Homo sapiens: one gene and its partners. The protein of the gene in region 1 interacts with the protein of each later gene in a biochemical or structural test. Each region holds a gene or a part of one and is shown in the gene's direction. Other genes may lie near its edges. The genes, in order: SNRNP70, PPM1G, CASP3, NUDT21 and TOP1.

Region 1 (3,348 bases):
GACCCGGCTTCGTGATGTCAGCGGCGAGGTGGCAGGAACACCGAGGGCAGGGCTCCAGGCCAGGGCTCCACTGGAGCCCTTCAGCCTTCCCTCCCTGCCCCCGTGCTTTCTATGGGGCTGCTACTGTGCTGGCCCTGGAGAGTCTTTTTGGCTGCTAGTTTTGGGGTGCTCTGCCCCCTTTCTGTCTTCCTTACTGTGGTTGAGGCCTCCCGAGGGGGCTGGCTGTGGTGTCCAGCAGCTCTCCAGAGGTGGTCAGGAGCTCCCTAAAGTGCATGGAATTGGGGCTTGGGGTGTGGGAGGGACCAAGGGGTAGGCTGCTAGCAGCTGAAGGTGTCGTAGGTTTTTACTAAAGAACCTTCCACTGTCTAGAGACTTGAGAGAGGGAAAGAGAGAGAGAGGCCTAGACGAACACAATCACATGTTTTCTTTGCTGTTCCTCCCGGGATGGGCCTGTTTTGGGGTTTGGGACTCTGAACCCGAGCGGGGTTCCTTCGCTTGACTTTGATCCTGGTCCTTAAATGCCTTTCCCCACTCCCCTCCCGTGGGTTCAGGGGCCAAGCGGCCCCTCCTCAGAGCACGGGCAGCACCGTCTCCTGGACCCCTGTGTGCCAGCCTCTGCAGACGCAGCTGGTGGGAGGGAGCATGGATTTGGAGGTGGAGAAGTCACTCCTGGTCCTCGGAGGGGGTGGGCTGTGTGCCTAGTTCAGTGTGACTCGGGGATTGGTGAGGGCGGACAGGTTTCTGAGGCCTCCCTAGCCTTCTTTGTAAATTCACACGAGATAGTCCAGGGCTTTCCAGCGCCCAGCTTGGATGATAATCCTCGTCTCCCCCACTCTAAGGCCTCCTTGAGATTTCTTTGGGGTCTACCACGTCCTCTGCCTGTCTCCAGGTGGTACAGGAGATGTGGTTCCTCTCCCTCTCCTGGCTCCCTAGAACCCCCCACTTCCCCTCCCTGTAGCTTTAGCTGACCCCGTGGTGGTGGGTGTGGGGTCTGTGCGCGTGCTCAGGTAAGCTTGGGGGCTCCAGGTAAGCGGTCCCGTGTCCCCCCCCCGGGAAGCCCGCCTCCTCGCCAGGCCCCCAGGAGTTGCCGAGCCCCCCCCATCCCGCTCGGTTTGGACACCCGCAAGGCCGGCATCGGTAAATGGCACCTTTTTCTCTTCCTCTGGTTGTTATTTGGGGGGGAGCGGGCTGGGGCGGGGCAGGGTATTACGGTTGGTTGAGGACAGCCCCCTAGGCCAGGGCTGGGTGGGGGAACGGGGACTTTTTGGCCTTCATGACAGCCCCACGTTGATCACAGGCCAGGGCCTCAGGCTTGCCTTCTGCTACGCGCTGCCCGAGAGCAGCAGTGAGCCTCTCCCCCGTCTCCCCTCTACGACTCCCCTTTCCTGGCAGGCTCAGGCTGGGGTGCGCTCCCAGCACGTGTTGAGCCGGGGGTGTGGAGGGCGAGATGGGGCAGGGCTGGGGGGAGGCAGAGTCAGTCGTCTCAGGTAAGGCAGGGATTTTCAGTAGCACCGCACGGCTCCCCATGCTTCCTCCACTGCCCCTCTCCCCTGCTGCAGGGGCCCCGCCAGGCCCCCTGGGAGTGTATAACCCGCCTCTCTGCTCCCTGCCATTTCCTGAAGATTTCTCCCACCCCCTTCTGGTTCATTTTCTGTTCTGATGTCTGTTCCCCCCACACTCACCCCCCTCCAAAAAAAACAAAAACAGAAAAAACCGGTGTGGTCTGGGGTGCGGAGCGTCCCAGCTGGGCCTCCTGCCCCGGCTTGGTGTCTCAGGGTGCATGCTTGGGGTTGTGGAGGAGCCCCCTCCCCCACAGCAGAGTCCAGCGTGGAGTTAACCTTCAGTTTCTTTGCAGCGATTTTGGCCGCCCTGGCGGGAGGGGGCTGTTCCATCATGTGGGAGAGGAAGGGCCGGGGAGCCTAGGGGGTGGCGGGTGAGGGTGGACGTCTCCCCCGACCAGGAGTGGTTGGGGCGCTGAGAGGAAGCAGACGCTGAGATGGAGCAGGCCCTTCACCGGTTTGGGAGAGGGTTGGTCTGGCTGTCAGTTGCCTGGCTGTCTGTTGGGCGTGTGCGTGTGCGTGATGATGGGGACACGGGGCGGGGATTCTGTAGAGCTGGGCCTGTCCTGACTAGAGGACCCTCTGGGGACTCCTCTCCCCTCCCCCTCCCCACATCTGTTACAGCCGCTTACAAACACGCAGATGGCAAGAAGATTGATGGCAGGAGGGTCCTTGTGGACGTGGAGAGGGGCCGAACCGTGAAGGGCTGGAGGCCCCGGCGGCTAGGTGAGCACATCCTGCCTTCGACGGGCTCTCGGGGGCCCTGGGCCTGGTGGCCTTGTTCTCCCTTCTCTGCTGCTTTCTGCTTCTCTGTCTCCTGCCGGCCCACCTCTCCCATCGCGTCCTCATCTCCGGCTTCTCTCTCTTGTGGCCATCACATTTCTGACAGCTGCCTGCCTCCTCGTTCTGGGTTACTGTGAGGAGCAGGGGCACCAGCCTGGAGAGGCCTGAGCCCACATGCTGGCGTCCGCCCTTGCTAGCTGGGGGTCCCCTTTTCCTGCCTCATTGTACTCCTCTTAGTGGAAATAACCCCGAGTTCACTGAGCTCAGTGTACTGGGCGCCCAGCTTGGCAGTGACGCATGCTGGGGTTGTAAATGTCACTCGCTCATCTGCTTCTGCTGCTTGCTGTTGCTCTTGTTCACTCTTTTACTGATTCAGCAAGTACCTATTGGATCACCAGCTGTGTGCCGGGCTTCTAGTTGAGCAACACAGAGGCAGCCTCTGCCCTCTGAGCCTCCTGCATTCGGTCTCCTCATTGTCATTTGCTGTCTCAGGCAAGGTCAGTTTGGCTGCAAGTATCAGAAATAAACTTGAGCTTCCTGAAACATAAAGGGCCCTGTTGATGTAGAATCATGGGCATCCTTTGGAGTTCGGAGGTATGTGATGTCCGTGGACCTGAGAACCTGGTAGCTGACGCTGTTAAGAGCTGGGGCAACCAGGCCAGGCGTGGTGGCTCGCCTGTAATCCCAGCACTTTGGGAGGCCGAGGCGGGTGGATCATGAGGTCAGGAGTTCGAGACCAGCCTGGCCAAGATGTTGAAACCGCATCTCTACTAAAAATACAAAAATTAACTGGGCGTGGTGGCGGGTGCCTGTAATCCCATCTACTCGGGAGGCTGAGGCAGAGAATTGCTTAAACCTGGGAGGCAGAGGTTGCAGTGAGCCAAGATAGAGTCACTGCATTCCATCCAGCCTGGGTGCCAGAGCAAGACTCTGTCTCAAAAAAAAAAACAAAAAACAAAAAAACTGGGGCGACCCACCTGTGATGTGTGACAGCCCACAGCTTGCT
Region 2 (3,521 bases), on another chromosome or scaffold:
ACGGTTTAGTGTGTAGAGATCTTACTAGACTATTCCTTACATCCTAATCTTCCTCCTGAGAGATAACTGCTTAGGGTATTAAAATCTTGCTAATGTGCTGTTTCTGAAGTTGCCCTTGTTTGAATAAATATGCCTAATCAATAGTTAAATATGCCTAATCAAATCCTCTTGAAGAGTATTGTTTGGGATCCTATTCTGCTTCATTGATAGTGTTCCTTCTGGCTTTTTTTCTCTTCAAAGTGTAGCATAGTTTCTTTGCTATTGCAAGAAAATAACTATGAGTTCTAGCCTCTTCCCTGAATCTTATCTTTCCAGAAAATATAAAGTACTCCCATTCCTCTGAAGCTTTAGGGCTTAATCCAAAAATTAATAAAGTTTATTTACCCTATTTGCTTGGTCCTAATGCTTCATTTGAGGTAAGGTTATCATACCACTAAAGGTTGTTGACATGCTGACTGATGGATAGATTTAGCCGTAGAGAGGACTCTTGAGACAAAAATGGCAATCATCAATAGCTGGCATTTTTACTTTCTGCCTGTTTCAAGCTTCTCTTCCTGTGTGACCAGGGTGTTGTTGTTGTTTGTTTTGTTTTGTTTTGTTTTTGAGACGGAGTTTCTATCTTGTTGCCCAGGCTGGAGTACAATGGCATGATCTCGGCTCACTGCAACCTCCGCCTCCCGGGTTCAAGCGATTCTCCTGCCTCAGCCTCCTGAGTAGCTGGGATTACAGGCATGTGCCACCACGCCTGGCTAATTTTGTATTTTTAGTAGAGATGGGGGTCTCTCCATGTTGGTCAGGCTGGTCTCGAACTTCTGACCTCAGGTGATCGGCCCGCCTCTGCCTCCCAAAATGCTGTGAGCCACCATGCCCAGCAACCAGGGTGTTTTGAGAAAAGGTAATCAAAATACCACAGGCCAGTCGTGGTGGCTTAACGCCTGTAATCCCAGCAGTTTGGGAGGCCGAGGGGGGCAGATCACCTGAGGTCAGTTCGAGACCAGCCTAGTCAACATGGTGAAACCCCGTCTCTACTGAAAATACAAAAATTAGCCAGAGGCCAGAGAATTGCTTGAATAGGAAGGCCAGTGAGCCGAGATCTCACCGCTGCACTCTAGCCAGGGTGACAGACTCCGTCTCAAAAAAACAAACAAAAAAACCACCACAGTTGATGTTCTCCTCCTTCCTCCTTTCTCCATGAAAAAAGTGGATGAGGTATGTACTTTGGGATTAAGAGGTAGGCACTGGGCACGGTGGCTCATGCCTGTAATCCCAGCACTTTGGGAGGCCGAGGTGGGCGGATCACGAGATCAAGAGACCGAGATCATTCTGGCCAATATGGTGAAACCCTGTCTCTTCTAAAATACAAGAATTAGCTGGGCATGGTGGCGCACGCCTGTAGTCCCAGCTACTCCGGAGGCTGAGGCAGGAGAATCGCTTGAACCTGGGAGGCGGAGGTTGCAGTGAGCCGAGATCGCACCACTGCACTCCAGCCTGGGCGACAGGGTGAGACTCCATCTTAAAAAAAAAAAAAAAAAAATGAGGTAGGTTGTGGAGGGGTGCCTGAAAAATTATAAGGTAAGGCCCTTGAGTTTTTGTTGGCTAAATAAGAAGTCAAATCTGAAAATAGATTCAGTTGATGTAGTCTTTTTTTTTTTTTTTTTTCTCCGAGACGGAGTCTTGCACTGTTGCCCAGGCTGGAGTATAATGGCATGATCTTGGCTCACTGCAACCTCTGCCTCCTGAGTTCAAGCGATTCTCCTGCCTCAGCTTCCCGAGTAGCTGGGATTACAGGCGCCTGCCACCATGCCCGGCTAATTTTTTGTATTTTCAATAGAGACAGGGTTTCACTATGTTGGCCGGGTTGGTCTCCAACTCCTGACCTCTTAATCCGCCCGCCTCGGCCTCCCAAAGTGCTGGCATTACAGGCGTGAGCCACCATGCCTGGCCCATCAGTTGATGTAGTCTTAAGGGGACAAGAGTACATTTAATATTTGGTTGTGAGGTTCTCTGGAAGTGACAAAACTGCTTTCTATGGAGAGTTAGGAATTTTTTTTTTTTTTGAAACGGAGTCTCGCATTGTCACCCGGGCTGGAGTGTAGTGGCTTGATCTCGGCTCACTGAAACTTCCGCCTCTTGGGTTCAAGTGATTCTCCTGCCTCAGCCTTCCAAATAGCTGGGATTACAGGAGTCTGCCACCAGGCCAGCTAATTTTTTTTTGTATTTTTAGTGGAGACAGGATTTCACTATGTTGGCCAGGCTGGTCTCAAGACTCCTGACGTTGTGATCCACCTGCCTCGGCCTCCCAAAGTGCTGGGATTACAGATGTGAGCTACCGTGCCCGGCCAGGAATTTTTTGTGCTATAAATCATATTTTCCTTTTATTAAAGGCAGTGTCAATATCTATAGTATAATTTTGAGGAGGCTGGCTATTTATTGCTGTGTAGAAGCTGGCTTATTAGTGGTCAAGGGGTCATCTAGAATTGACTATAAAGATAGTATTGAGCAGAAAATTCTTAAAATACCTGCATATTTGTTTCAGTCATTAAATTAATGGAAAAAATATAAAAAGAAATATCACAAGTATGCTATGGGGTTCTACCTTAGGGCATTGAAGGTTGAAAAACATTTATTTTCTTATCTTCAGATTAGCATCTCATATCAATAGCCAATAGCTTAAAGCGCTTTTTACTTACTAAACCAGGTCAGAATTTCTCTCTCTCTCTCTTTTTTTTTTTTAGACAGAGTCTCTGTCACCCAGTCTAGAGTGCAGTGGTGTGATCTCGGCTCACTGGCCTTTCTGTTTAAGTGATTCTCCGGCCTCAGCCTCCTGAGTAGCTGGGATTACAGGCATGTGCCACGACACTTGGCTTATTTTTTGTATTTTTAGTAGAGATGGGGTTTCTCTGTGTTGGTCAGGCAGGTCTTGAACTCCTGACCTCAGGTGATCTGCCCGCCTCCGCCTCCCAAAGTGCTGGGATTACAGACGTGAGCTACTGCGCCTGGCCAGAATTTCTTTGTCTAGAATGTGGTTAGCAACTTTTATAAAAACGCATTATTTGCATTTGATTAGCATGCAGTACCCATTCACAGTTCAAAGCTAGTATAGAATTATATCACATGTATGCCCATGAGCATGGAGAAACTATTTTCTTTTTATTTTTTTAAGTTGGAGTTTTGCTCTTGTTGCCCAGGCTGGAGTGCAATGGTGCCATCTCGGCTCACTGCAGCTTCTGCCTCCTGGGTTCTAGCAATTTGCCTACCCCAGCCTCCCAAGTAGCTGGGATTACAGGCACTCGCCACCATGCCCAGCTAACTTTTTTGTATTTTTAGTAGAGAAGGGGTTTTCCCATGCTGGCGAGTCTGGTCTTGAACTTCTGGCCTCAAGTGATCTGCCCGCCTCAGCCTCCCAAAGTGCTGGAATTACAGGCATGAGCCACTGTGCCCGGCCTTTTTATTTTTTAAATTATTTATGTATTTATTTTGAGACAGGATCTCACTCTTGCCCATGCTTGAGTGGTAAGGAG
Region 3 (3,521 bases), on another chromosome or scaffold:
ACTGAGTGCCTTGCAAAGTACCTGGTATATATTAAGTGCTCAATAAGTGATAGTTGCTTTGATTCTAAGAACTGGTTCACCTTGTGAGATATAATTGTGTAATGGAAGAATGAAAGCAGAAACTTTAGTTTCTACTTTTACATTTCCTGGGCCATTTTACTACCCTAAATGAGAAGCTGGGCTTCCAAAACCCACTTTAAAAGTAAAGACTAGGCCGGGTGCGGTGGCTCTTGCCTGTAATCCCAGCACTTTAGGAGGCCTAGGTGGGCAGATCACTTGAACTCAGGAGTTTGAGACCAGCCTGGGCAATACAGCGAGACCGTATGTCTACAAAAAATACAAAAATTAGCCAGACATGGTGGTGCATGCCTGTAATCCCAGCTACTCGGGAGGCTGAGGCGGGAGAATTTGAGTCCAGGAGATCGAAGCTGCAGTGAGCCGTGATTGCGCCGCTGCCCTCCAGCCTGGGTGACAGAGTGAGACCCTGCCTCAAAAGAAAAAAAAAAAAAGAATAAAGATTAATGGAGATTTGGAACATCTTGATACTGTATCTTGGGAATCTAAGCATTGTAGAATTGTGTTATGTGAGTTATACCATTGTGGTGGGAAGTTTTTGATTTTTGTTTTAACTGTGTTGAGTTGCAGTTCTTAGAAATGACCCGAGGTGTTGTCTTACAAAAGAAATAAACTGTAATCTGTATCTTGATCTGATGAGGGTATGTAAATATAAAAAATCGAGCTGTATACTTTCTATATGCTTTATGTAGTTCACTATATATAATTCATAGCTCAATTAAAAAGAGAGAGAGAGGCTAAATTGTATGTACCATTGCAAAGAAATCATTATCCCCAGAACTGACTCACATACACCTTTAACAGTAGAGGGAGAACTGAGGTATTAATTTGGAAAAATAATCACTGGGATAATTAATATAATGCAGTGGTTTTATGACTGATTTTTTATTAACTTCTATTTTCTTTGTATTCTAGTTAATAAAGGTATCCATGGAGAACACTGAAAACTCAGTGGATTCAAAATCCATTAAAAATTTGGAACCGTGAGTATTTAAATTGAATTCTTTATAATCAGAGAAAGATGGGGATGTGTAATAAGCAAACCTCGAGCAGTGGGGCAAGAGGAAAGAGAGTGGTCTCTCTCTCAGGCCAGAGAGACCAAGTGACTTCCTACCTCAGACAGCTGTGTGGCTTTGCATAAACTGACTTTTCTTCTCTGAACCTCGTCTTTAACATGGGGCTAAAACTTTCACAGAACTGAAGGGAAGATGAAAGGAAAGGCCTAGTAGGGTGTGTGACCCATAGTTGGAAACCTAGTCCTGGAACCAAAAGGACACCACAGGAGAGGCAGGACTCCCAAGCGCCGGTGCTTTCTACCCTCCCGAATCGCTCTATAGGATTAGAGGGTTTAGGTTTGGGAGGAGTTTCTTGACCTCTTGTTTATGAGTTTTTACGACTAAAATGCAATGCCAGTTTTCAGTCCGGGGACAAACTGCCTAGTTATGGATGAATTTTACCCTTTTTTTCCCCGTGTCTTTTTGGAATATTCTGCTTATTAATGCTTCCAATAACTAGCAGATGGAAAAAGGAAAAAGATAAAACTCAAATTCACTTTTTAATTCTTGTCTGTTATTATTTATTTGGGATCTCTCGTAATACTTTAAATTCTGAAAGTTTATTTCTGAAACCCAGTATTGTTATTCTCGGCTGCCCTGAATATTACAAACTAATTTTATTACTAAACAATATGATTACAGAAATACTATTAACAAGTTACCACTAAAGATTTCACAATTTTGTTTAGCAAAGGGATTTTTCTAGAAAGTAAACTTTTAAAATGCAGTCCCATTTTAGAGAGTTGTTGCTGTCATTTAAATCATTTTAGCCAGTGCAGTGGCTTGCTCCTGTAATCCCAGCTACGTGGGAGCTGTGGCAGGAGGATCACTTGAGGTGGAGAGTTTGAAACCAGCCTGGGCAACATAACGAGACCCTGTCTCTACAAAAAAACAAAAAACAATTAGTCCACCATAGTGTGTGTGCTTGTAGTCAGTCCTAGCTACACGCCAGAGGTTACAGTGAAGTAAGACCCCATCTCTTCAAAAAAATCCTTTGAAAGTGATTTACACATTTTCCTACTATTTTTTTTTTCTTTCTTTTTTGAGACAGGCTGGAGTGCAGTGATCTGATTATGGCTCACTGCACTCCTGGGCTCCAGTAATCCTCCTGAGTAGCTAGGACTACAGACATGTGCCACCATGCCTGGTTATTTTTGTTTTTTATTTTTGTAGAGATGGGGGTCTTGCTGTGTTGCCCAGGCTGGTCTCCAATGCCTGGCCTCAAGGGATCCTCCTGCCTCGGCCTCCCAAAGTGCTGGGAGTACAGGTGTGAACCACCCTGCCTGGCCCTACCTTTTCATGTCATGCAGAACACCACTTCAATAACAAGTTGCACGGAAGCCCCAGACAGGTTTAGGGTTGTTTCGATCCTTTGGTAAGTTGCCCTCACAGTCCCGGCTTTCACAGCCTCTGCCTTTTATTAGGAGTATCCCCTCGTGGACTAGCTATCATATGCTTGTAAAGTACCTACCTCCTTAGGAGGCACCCAGAGCACGTGGGGAAGGGGTGTCGGGAGCTGGGAGTCATAAGTCCCATGATCCATCATCTGTAGGACTCAAAGGTCAAGTCACGCTTTCAGGATTTAACTTCAGTCTGTAAATGTGAGGCTGTTCACCTCTGGTTAAAAATCATAACTGTTTTCTCACGTTGACTCCTTTAATTTACTACATTTAATCTTTTTCCAACAGTATTTTTGGAATTGTGTATAATGTGAGATGCTCTTAAGGTTAAGTGCATGAGTATATGGACTGTAGGTGTTAGTGTTTGGTAGTTCCTAGACCTGTTTTTGCCTGACTCTTGGTCTAGATCAGGGATCAAGCTTAAGGCCTGTTTTTATCAACTTTCGTTGGAATATAGGCACATCCATTCGCTTACATATTGTCCTAAGCCCGTTTCACCAGTATAATTGAGCAGCTATGGCTGGGCACAGTGGCTCACAACTGTAATCCCAGCACTTTTGGAGGCCAAGGCAGGAGGATCACTTGAGGCCAGGAGTTCAAGACTAGCCTGGGCAACATAGCGAGATCCTGTCTCTAAAAAAGAAAATACAGAAATTAGCTGGGCATGGTGGGGCATGCCTGTCTGTAGTCCTAGCTACTCAGAAGGCTGAGGAAGGAGTATCACTGGAGCCCAAGAGTTCAAAGTTGCAGTGAGCTATGATGGCACCACTGCACTCCAGCTTGGGTGACAGAGCCAGACCATGTCTCAAAAAAAAAAAAAAAAGAATAGAATTGAGTAGCTGTAACAGAAACCAGATGGCCCACAAGCCTAAAACACTTAATATTTAGCCCATTAAAAAAAAAGTTTACTGACCCCAATCTAGATAGCAGAGGTTTTTTTAGATAAGTGACTTCCAGACAGATATTTTCAATTATTTACAATAATGCTTTT
Region 4 (4,276 bases), on another chromosome or scaffold:
TCGGGCATAACCACCTCTAATTCCTTGATTTCTACCCCAACATTTACCCACTGCTTCCGGCTGGCTAGATCACCATCCTGTAATCATCAGCACCACCTACCAGGTGCCAGGCCCATGATCTCATTCAATCTTTTTAACAGCTCTGAGGGAGACATTATCACTCTCCCCATTCTACAGATGAAGAAACTGAGAGTACAGAGCCTGCACTTAAACACTAAGCTATCGTTTTCTATAGGCATCCAGCCTACCCAGGACTCACCTCTTCAAAGCACTTGACAACGGAAAGAAAAATTACGGCAAACTCTAGAAGGGGATGCCTGGCGCATGAAGCAGAGCTCTGAACACCTAAGGTGATATTTAAAGCTGAGGCTGGAATCGTTCAACGTAGGCGCCTTTCCTTGGTCAAAGCGCGTTTATTTTCATACATCATGGAGTCAAACTACAGGCGCGTAGAGACGAGTACACTAGGGAGTCAAGCTGGCAGCTCACGACAAATGCCCTGGCTAGACTCTCCTGGGACAGCTGAGCAATGCCCTTGCAGGAGAAATGACATCAGCCACTCCTGTATTTGTCCACATGTGTATTGGGCCTTACTCAGGGAAACATTTACTGAAGCCTGCAAGCATTAGTGTGTCGCTCCCATTCACCGACTTTCCGAGGTAAATATTATGAACTATCCCATTTTACTTAGGAAGCAACTGAAGTTTAATAAGGTTAATTCCATTGCCTGGCGACGCCCAATCAGGGGAGAGGATTCTAACTCAGTAATCTTTGACTCCAGAATGCAACTATCTCTTGCATACCCTCTGCTTCCCAAAACTCTCCGGCCTCCATTTCTCCCTCTTCTCACGTTTCTAAATTGCAACCGAATTTGGAGTGAAAGGGAGCAGCAGCCGAGGCAGGAGAGTAGGAGGTGGCCAAAGTCCTCTAAGAGCCTCTTCCCTTGCGGCCCCGCTGCCCAAGGCTGGGCGCGAGTCCCAGGGCTTTTTCAGAGATCCCTAGACCTCTGCGTGGCGGCCCCTCCCTGAGAGCACCCGGTTACCGTGACTGAACGGCGTCCTGCGGCTCCAGGCCTCAGCCACCTGCTTTTTCAAGGTTTCTTCCGTAACAGCGTCCGAAAACTCCGCCATCACCTCCTTCTTTCCCTTTTTTCCCACCCGGGCTGGGCCGGGCTCCGCTGGCCGCTTCCCATTCATCTCTTCCCAAGGCACAGAACCACGCCACGCAGATCAAGACGCTACCTTCCTGAGGGTACTGCAACTCCCGGCATGTCCCCTTTATCGTGTTTCCCGGCCCTACCCAATGGGAAGCACCAAAGTAAGAGAAGGCGGAACCTATACCCGGTTTACCAATGGGAGCTCCAGCTATTGCAGCCATCCCACCAGCAATTGGCCCACTGGAGCTCGGTCTGGCAGGCCACCGCCCCTCTACTTCCTGCCGCCAGAGGCTCCGGGTTCACTTCCGGCGTGCCTACGCCTCCTCTTGCGCTGTCCTGTTAATGGCGGGCAGTAGCCGCTGAGGGGATTGCAGATAACCGCTTCCCGCACGGGGAAAGTCTACCCTGCCTGCCACTTTCTGCTCGCCGTCAGCGCCGGAGCTCGCCAGCATGTCTGTGGTACCGCCCAATCGCTCGCAGACCGGCTGGCCCCGGGGGGTCACTCAGTTCGGCAACAAGTACATCCAGCAGACGAAGCCCCTCACCCTGGAGCGCACCATCAACCTGTAAGTGCGGCGCGGCCTTGGCGGGCATTTCTCTCGTGAAAGCTCCTATAGACTCTCCGACGCGCCCCCGGCTTTTCGGCGCGCTTCACGCCTCTGCACCTCCCCGCCTCCAACTCCCGCTGGCGGATGCGCGCCTTCCTCCCTCTCTCAGGCCCCTTTCTCATCCTCCAGCCTCCAGGGTTAGAGTCCTTTTCTGAAAGGAAGGCTTGTTCCCATCCTATGTATTCGGTCATAATGGGGAAAAACGGAGTTTGCTTTTAACTCATCCTTTCCCCACCTCTCCAGAGGTAACCGACTTCAAAATGTGTGTTTTTTTAATCCTTCCAGTGAATTGTTTATGCTTTCGCATCACGTACATGGTATTGCTTTGTGAGTGTTGATGTGATACGAATGGTATAACCTAGTATCATTTTTGCAGATTTCACTCTGACAGTAAGGTTTCGAGATCTAGCTGTAATGCCTAGGTCTAGTTTTCTTCCTTTTAGGTGCCACTTAATACTTCAGTTTTTGAATACAACACATTTTATTCATGTGCTCAGGGCTGTCTGCCCTGCCCCATGCCTTATGCCTTCGCGTCGTCTGATGTCTCAATGCCGGCATCCCAGGCACCACAAGTAGGCCCCTCCTTGGGAGTAAGGATGCTGCTATGGTTGGGCTTTCAGACTGGAGGGAACCAGAATGTTTGTACCAGAAAACCCATTGTGGGCTGTGTTTTATTTTCAACACCTTTCTGTTTCAACACTTCAAACCATTGCATTTCAAGGTCATTCTCAGAAGCAGACTCGCTGTAGCAGGTAATTGGCGTTTGGGGTGTCTTAATCAAGAAATTGTCAGTAATGCTTTTTAAAATCGTTTCTGAGGATTTGTTTTCGAGGCAACGCGGTGCCTCCATTTTATGCCAGGATGGAGGAAAGTGGCCAGTTTATGCCAGTCAGGGTACAAGTGCAAGGATTTGGTGGTATTGATGTTTTCGTAAGGCAGTTTAGGTGTTTCTCTGTTTCATATTAAAATAAACGGACATTGTCTCCCCGTCCCCCAACCAAAAGTGATTTGAAGTTGAAAAGATGGTTAACATTGTTTTATTTTGCAAAACGTGTTGGCTTGGAAATTTAGATAATGGAAATGCTGGGTTTATAAAATCTGGAATTAGTTGATAGTTGTGTGTATAAAAGTTCTCAGGAGTGGCGGCTCACGACTGTACTCCCAGCACCTTGGGAGGCTGAGGTGGGAGGATCACTTGAGGCCAGGAGTTGGAGATCAGTCTGGGCAACATAGGCTGTCTCTACAAAAATTTTTTTAAAAATTAAGAAAAAATCCATCAAATGGTAAAGGCAAATGTTATCCTTTTTAAAAGTGTGAAAGCACAGCTTCTGGATTACTTTCGGTGGTTATTAGAACTAAAACCCACAGTCTTTTCTTGTTTTGTCTTGATTACTGAATTAATTTGCATCCAACCATTTTGTAGAATTGGCAAAATAGTTAGCTTTCAGTAAGATATTTTAATCTTCGCTCTATTAAAATTATGGGTTGATTTACAGTACATTTCCTCTCCTGTGTAAATACAAATATTCAGAAATAATAATTGTGTTGTGAACTTAAGTTCACCTGAGTTAACATTAAGTTGAAAACAAATGCCCTCTCCCCCAGTATATTTTATTTTAGGAAATATTGCATGAATGCCTACTTTGTACCAGGCACTGTGCACAATACTGGATATACAGTGGTGAGGAAGTAAGGTGTAGCCCCTGCTTTATGAAGCTCACAGTATGATGAGAACAATATGTATGTCTGGGCTGGCACTCTGATTTCACAGGTGAAAATTCTGACATTTCATCTTCACATCTCCTTACTGATATATTGGAGCTGGCTCTTGCAACAGAGATGTGTAATGGCTATCCTTAATTCTTTCTAACTCAGGTTGTCAGAATTAAATGTTAATATATGTAAAGCGTTTTAAAAAATTGCTTGGCACGTCGTTCTATGTAGCATATCTGCTGCTGCTATGGATGATGGTTTTAGATTTAGCATTGGATCTACCGGGGATGTTCTTTAAATTTTTAAAGCATCCTGGAATGGTATATTTTAATTATTTTAGAGCTTTTTCATATGCCTAGAACTTGGCTTCTGGAATTAAAGTAATTTTTAAAGTTTTGGCAACCTTGATTTTTTCCCCTTTCAAGAATGGCTGAGTGGGGTAGATACAATAATGTTGACTATTAATGTCAAGGGCTTTTGGTAGAATAGATACCTTGGATGGGCAAATGTGGCCTAAATTCGTACTCAAAGGCTTCTTGCTGTAAGGCTTTAATTAAGGGCTTACAACATATAAGTATGGATTTTTTAACTATCTTTAAAGAAAAATTTGATCCTTATTAGGCAAGATGAAAACTGTCTTTAACAGTTTGAGCCATATTTTAAATTATTGGTAAAGGAAGAGAGTTTTCGATTAGATATGGTGGGTAGAAGATTCAGATGAGGAGAAGGAAACAATAAGGAGACTGAATAGAATAAATGCCAAAGGCTAGTAAATAGGTTTAGAGGACAAAAAGAGAAA
Region 5 (3,521 bases), on another chromosome or scaffold:
AATGGGGGTGATTATGTGCTTTGTGTTGACAGAAGTTAGTTTTTGGGACATCCCATGTGGGTTTTTCCCAGGAACATAAACATTTTAGAGAATTAGAGCTAGAAACTTTCTTCTGGGAAAGCCTTAGAAGTCAGTTGTGCTTGGCAGTGAGATGGGACAATGTGCATTCTTAACAGGTTAAATGTGCCAAACTCTCTCTTCAGTACTATTCTTTTTTACGTTTGCTTAAGGTCAAGTTCCTGCTCTTTTGTTCAAAGTCTTGCTTTGTCACCCATGGTGGAGTGCAGTGGCGTGATCTTGGCTCACTGCAACCTCTGCCTCCTGCGTTCAAGCAATTCTTGTGTCTTAGCCTCCCTATTAGCTAGCTGGGATTATAGGCTTGCGCCACCTTGCCTGGCTATATTCAAAGTCTGTCTTTACTACACTGTCCCAAAGTAATCTACATTTGGGTTTGGGTCTTTACAGGGTGAGAAGGACTGGCAGAAATACGAGACTGCTCGGCGGCTGAAAAAATGTGTGGACAAGATCCGGAACCAGTATCGAGAAGACTGGAAGTCCAAAGAGATGAAAGTCCGGCAGAGAGCTGTAGCCCTGTACTTCATCGACAAGGTGAGAGCATCTTCCCATCGGCATTGTCTAGTGTTGAGCTTAACAAAGGGAGTTTCTGCTCTGCCCCAGGCCCTGTGCCACATACTGTATATCACAACTCAACATACATATATTTGTATGTAAAACTGAATCAAAAGTTGCACAAAACAATGCTTAGCCTTACTGTGAGCAGTAGATTCTGATCTTTTTTTAACTCTATTTCATTCCTTTAGAAAGTTGGTTATAACTTATAAAATTGTTTAAATAAACCATGCAGGTATCACCATTATATAGTTTTAAAGACCACGCTCTAGAGGAGATCAATTTCTTGGTACTCACGAGAAGAAAAAAAAGTTCATGTTTTTCCCCCAGTCTTGTATTTTAACATAAGTTCTGAATTGTCTCAAAATTCACACTAGCTTTTTGAGTTTGATTGCCCAGAGTAGCAGCACTCCCTCATTTGCTGCCTTATTTAATTTTTTTTTTCCTTTTCTCCATCCCTATTTCAGAGGACAGAATAGAAAGAAAAGGAGCATGAATATTTAACATCCCTATAGATTTCATAGTGAGTGGGGGAGGAAGTAACACTGCAGAATCCAGAGTTCCCAGGCCATGCTGACTGATGCTGTGGCTTCAAACAGAATTGGGAGGCTTCTGTTTTGGATGCCTAGAAATTGCATAAGGGTCAAAAGGCTGGGCGCAGTGGCTCACGCCTGTAATCCCAGCACTTTGGGAGGCCAAGGCAGGTGGAACACGAGGTCAAGAGACCATCCTGGCCAATGTGGTGAAACCCCATCTCTACTAAAAATACAAAAAAAAAAAAAAAAATAAAAATTGGCGTGGTGGCGGGCGCCTGTAGTCCCAGCTACTTCGGAGGCTGAGGCAGGAGAATGGCATGAACCCGGGAGACGGAGCTTGCAGTGAGCCAAAATTGCGCCATTGCACTCTAGCCTGGCGACAGAGCGAGACTGTCTCAAAAAAAAAAAAAAAAAAAACACAGAACGAAATTGTGTAAGGATCATGTCTCTTCCATTCATGCTCATCTTTTCTTTCTTTCCTGGGCAGCTTGCTCTGAGAGCAGGCAATGAAAAGGAGGAAGGAGAAACAGCGGACACTGTGGGCTGCTGCTCACTTCGTGTGGAGCACATCAATCTACACCCAGAGTTGGATGGTCAGGAATATGTGGTAGAGTTTGACTTCCTCGGGAAGGACTCCATCAGATACTATAACAAGGTCCCTGTTGAGAAACGAGTAAGTTAATGTACCTGTACTGTCTGACTTGTTTTCCATTATTCAACAAGCATGGGTTGACTGCTTTTTTGTGTGCTTTGCACTTTGCTGGGCACCAGCAAAAGTGACTTGAGACAGGCAACATGGCACATGCCTGTAGACCCAGCTATTCAGAAGGCTGAGACAGGAGGATCACTGGAGACCAAAAGTTTGAGGCTGTAGTGTGCTGTGATCACACCTGTGAATAGCCACTGTACTCCAGCCTGGGCAAAATAGTGAGACCTTGCCTCTCATATTAAAATAAATAAAAATAAATGACTTGAAAGAGGGGAGAGGTATTATTTGATATCTTGTGTACCTCCTTTTAGTCACTGTTCCGCCCTGTGCTACCTTCCTGGTAAGGAGTGGCCTTCTCCTATAGCAGTATTCAATGGAGCATGCTGTAGAATAGGCCCTTAGAGCAAACTCAGCATATGATTTAACTATATCTTAGTATCCCCTGGTCATGTGGTACATTTGTCACTTTTCATCTTTGCTCAGCCTTTCTCCAACTCCTGACTGAGTGAAAGGTTAATGTTAGTCCCCAGATCTCTGAGCCCATCACTGAAGAGGGTACTATAGCTCTGTAGTCCCAACCTAATCTTTTCCATAGTATTGGGCTTGAACCAGAGACTTACAGTGTGCAGGATCCTAATAATCCAGCCCACCAGCAGTCCTCTTCTTATAAAGACACCTCTTCTCATAAGGACACCATAATCAGTAATCAGGTTTTGCTGGCTGTGGAAGTACTCTGGACAGATTAGATAACAGTATGTATCAATGTAAATTTTTGAAGCTGATACTGTGTAAATGTAAGGGAATATCTATTTTTAGAACATACACACTGAAATGTTTAGGACCATATTATAAGTAAGTACTTATAAATGTACTTTAGGACCATATTATAAGTAAGTACTTATAAATGTACTTTAGGACCATATTATAAGTAAGTGCTTATAAATGGCTCAGAACAAACAATTATGTATATATATCTGTAAATATACACATGGAGAGAGTGAGCATACATGCACACTGTGCAAATGATGAATGGGGTAAAATGTTAACAGTGAATCTCGGTGACGGATGTATGCGTGTTCCTTGTGCCTTTTTCTTTGCAAGTTTCTTTAAGTTTGGGGTTATTTCTAAAGTTAGGATTTTTTTCAAGAGTAATAATTAGGATTCACTTATATCTTTTAGGTTTTTAAGAACCTACAACTATTTATGGAGAACAAGCAGCCCGAGGATGATCTTTTTGATAGACTCAATGTGAGTAGATGAAGCACACAATGTTGAAGGGAGTCCCAGCCAGAGCCTCACAGTACCTAAAGGGGAGGGTTGCTGGCAGATGACTTGGGCTCTCCCTTTAGCCTGGCCTGCTCTGTGGCATCCCATACACTCTCTCTTCCTCCCTCTGAGTCCACGGTGAATCTGTAGTCAAGAGAAGACACATCTGCTGCAGAACAACTGCTAAAGCACTCAGGGTGGGGGGTAGATGAGCCCTACCTTTTATCCTTCCCTGCTCCTGCAGAGCTTTCCCTTCACTGAATGCCCAGCCACCCCTGCTGGAGACCCAAAACCTGTCCCTGATATCTTAATAGGGAAGGAAAAATTTGCTTTATTGGTTTGTTAAGCCCACCAACCTGGGCCAGGCTTGGTGGCTTACG

Evidence for each region.
Region 2: the proteins of SNRNP70 (region 1) and PPM1G interact in far-western blotting, tested with the Homo sapiens proteins (one study listed by IntAct).
Region 3: of the proteins of SNRNP70 (region 1) and CASP3, one has a biochemical effect on the other in vitro, tested with the Homo sapiens proteins (one study listed by BioGRID).
Region 4: the proteins of SNRNP70 (region 1) and NUDT21 form a complex in vitro, tested with the Homo sapiens proteins (one study listed by BioGRID).
Region 5: the proteins of SNRNP70 (region 1) and TOP1 interact in a test that uses a peptide from one of them, tested with the Homo sapiens proteins (one study listed by BioGRID).

The regions. Positions count from the first base shown.
Region 1 is NC_000019.10:49,102,451-49,105,798, forward strand, and holds part of SNRNP70 (U1 small nuclear ribonucleoprotein 70 kDa), read left to right. Parts: intron 1-976; exon of another isoform or gene 977-1,137; intron 1,138-2,183; coding exon 2,184-2,285; intron 2,286-3,348. UniProt on the Homo sapiens protein: Component of the spliceosomal U1 snRNP, which is essential for recognition of the pre-mRNA 5' splice-site and the subsequent assembly of the spliceosome. SNRNP70 binds to the loop I region of U1-snRNA.
Region 2 is NC_000002.12:27,403,086-27,406,606, reverse strand, and holds part of PPM1G (protein phosphatase 1G), read left to right. Parts: intron 1-3,521.
Region 3 is NC_000004.12:184,635,938-184,639,458, reverse strand, and holds part of CASP3 (caspase-3 isoform a preproprotein), read left to right. Parts: intron 1-990; coding exon of another isoform or gene 991-1,005; coding exon 1,006-1,058; intron 1,059-3,521. UniProt on the Homo sapiens protein: Thiol protease that acts as a major effector caspase involved in the execution phase of apoptosis. Following cleavage and activation by initiator caspases (CASP8, CASP9 and/or CASP10), mediates execution of apoptosis by catalyzing cleavage of many proteins.
Region 4 is NC_000016.10:56,448,533-56,452,808, reverse strand, and holds the start of NUDT21 (cleavage and polyadenylation specificity factor subunit 5), read left to right. Parts: upstream 1-1,476; 5' UTR 1,477-1,606; coding exon 1,607-1,722; intron 1,723-4,276. Other genes in the region: prolyl 3-hydroxylase OGFOD1, read right to left, coding at 1,043-1,196. UniProt on the Homo sapiens protein: Component of the cleavage factor Im (CFIm) complex that functions as an activator of the pre-mRNA 3'-end cleavage and polyadenylation processing required for the maturation of pre-mRNA into functional mRNAs.
Region 5 is NC_000020.11:41,112,317-41,115,837, forward strand, and holds part of TOP1 (DNA topoisomerase 1), read left to right. Parts: intron 1-465; coding exon 466-609; intron 610-1,653; coding exon 1,654-1,839; intron 1,840-3,054; coding exon 3,055-3,123; intron 3,124-3,521. UniProt on the Homo sapiens protein: Releases the supercoiling and torsional tension of DNA introduced during the DNA replication and transcription by transiently cleaving and rejoining one strand of the DNA duplex.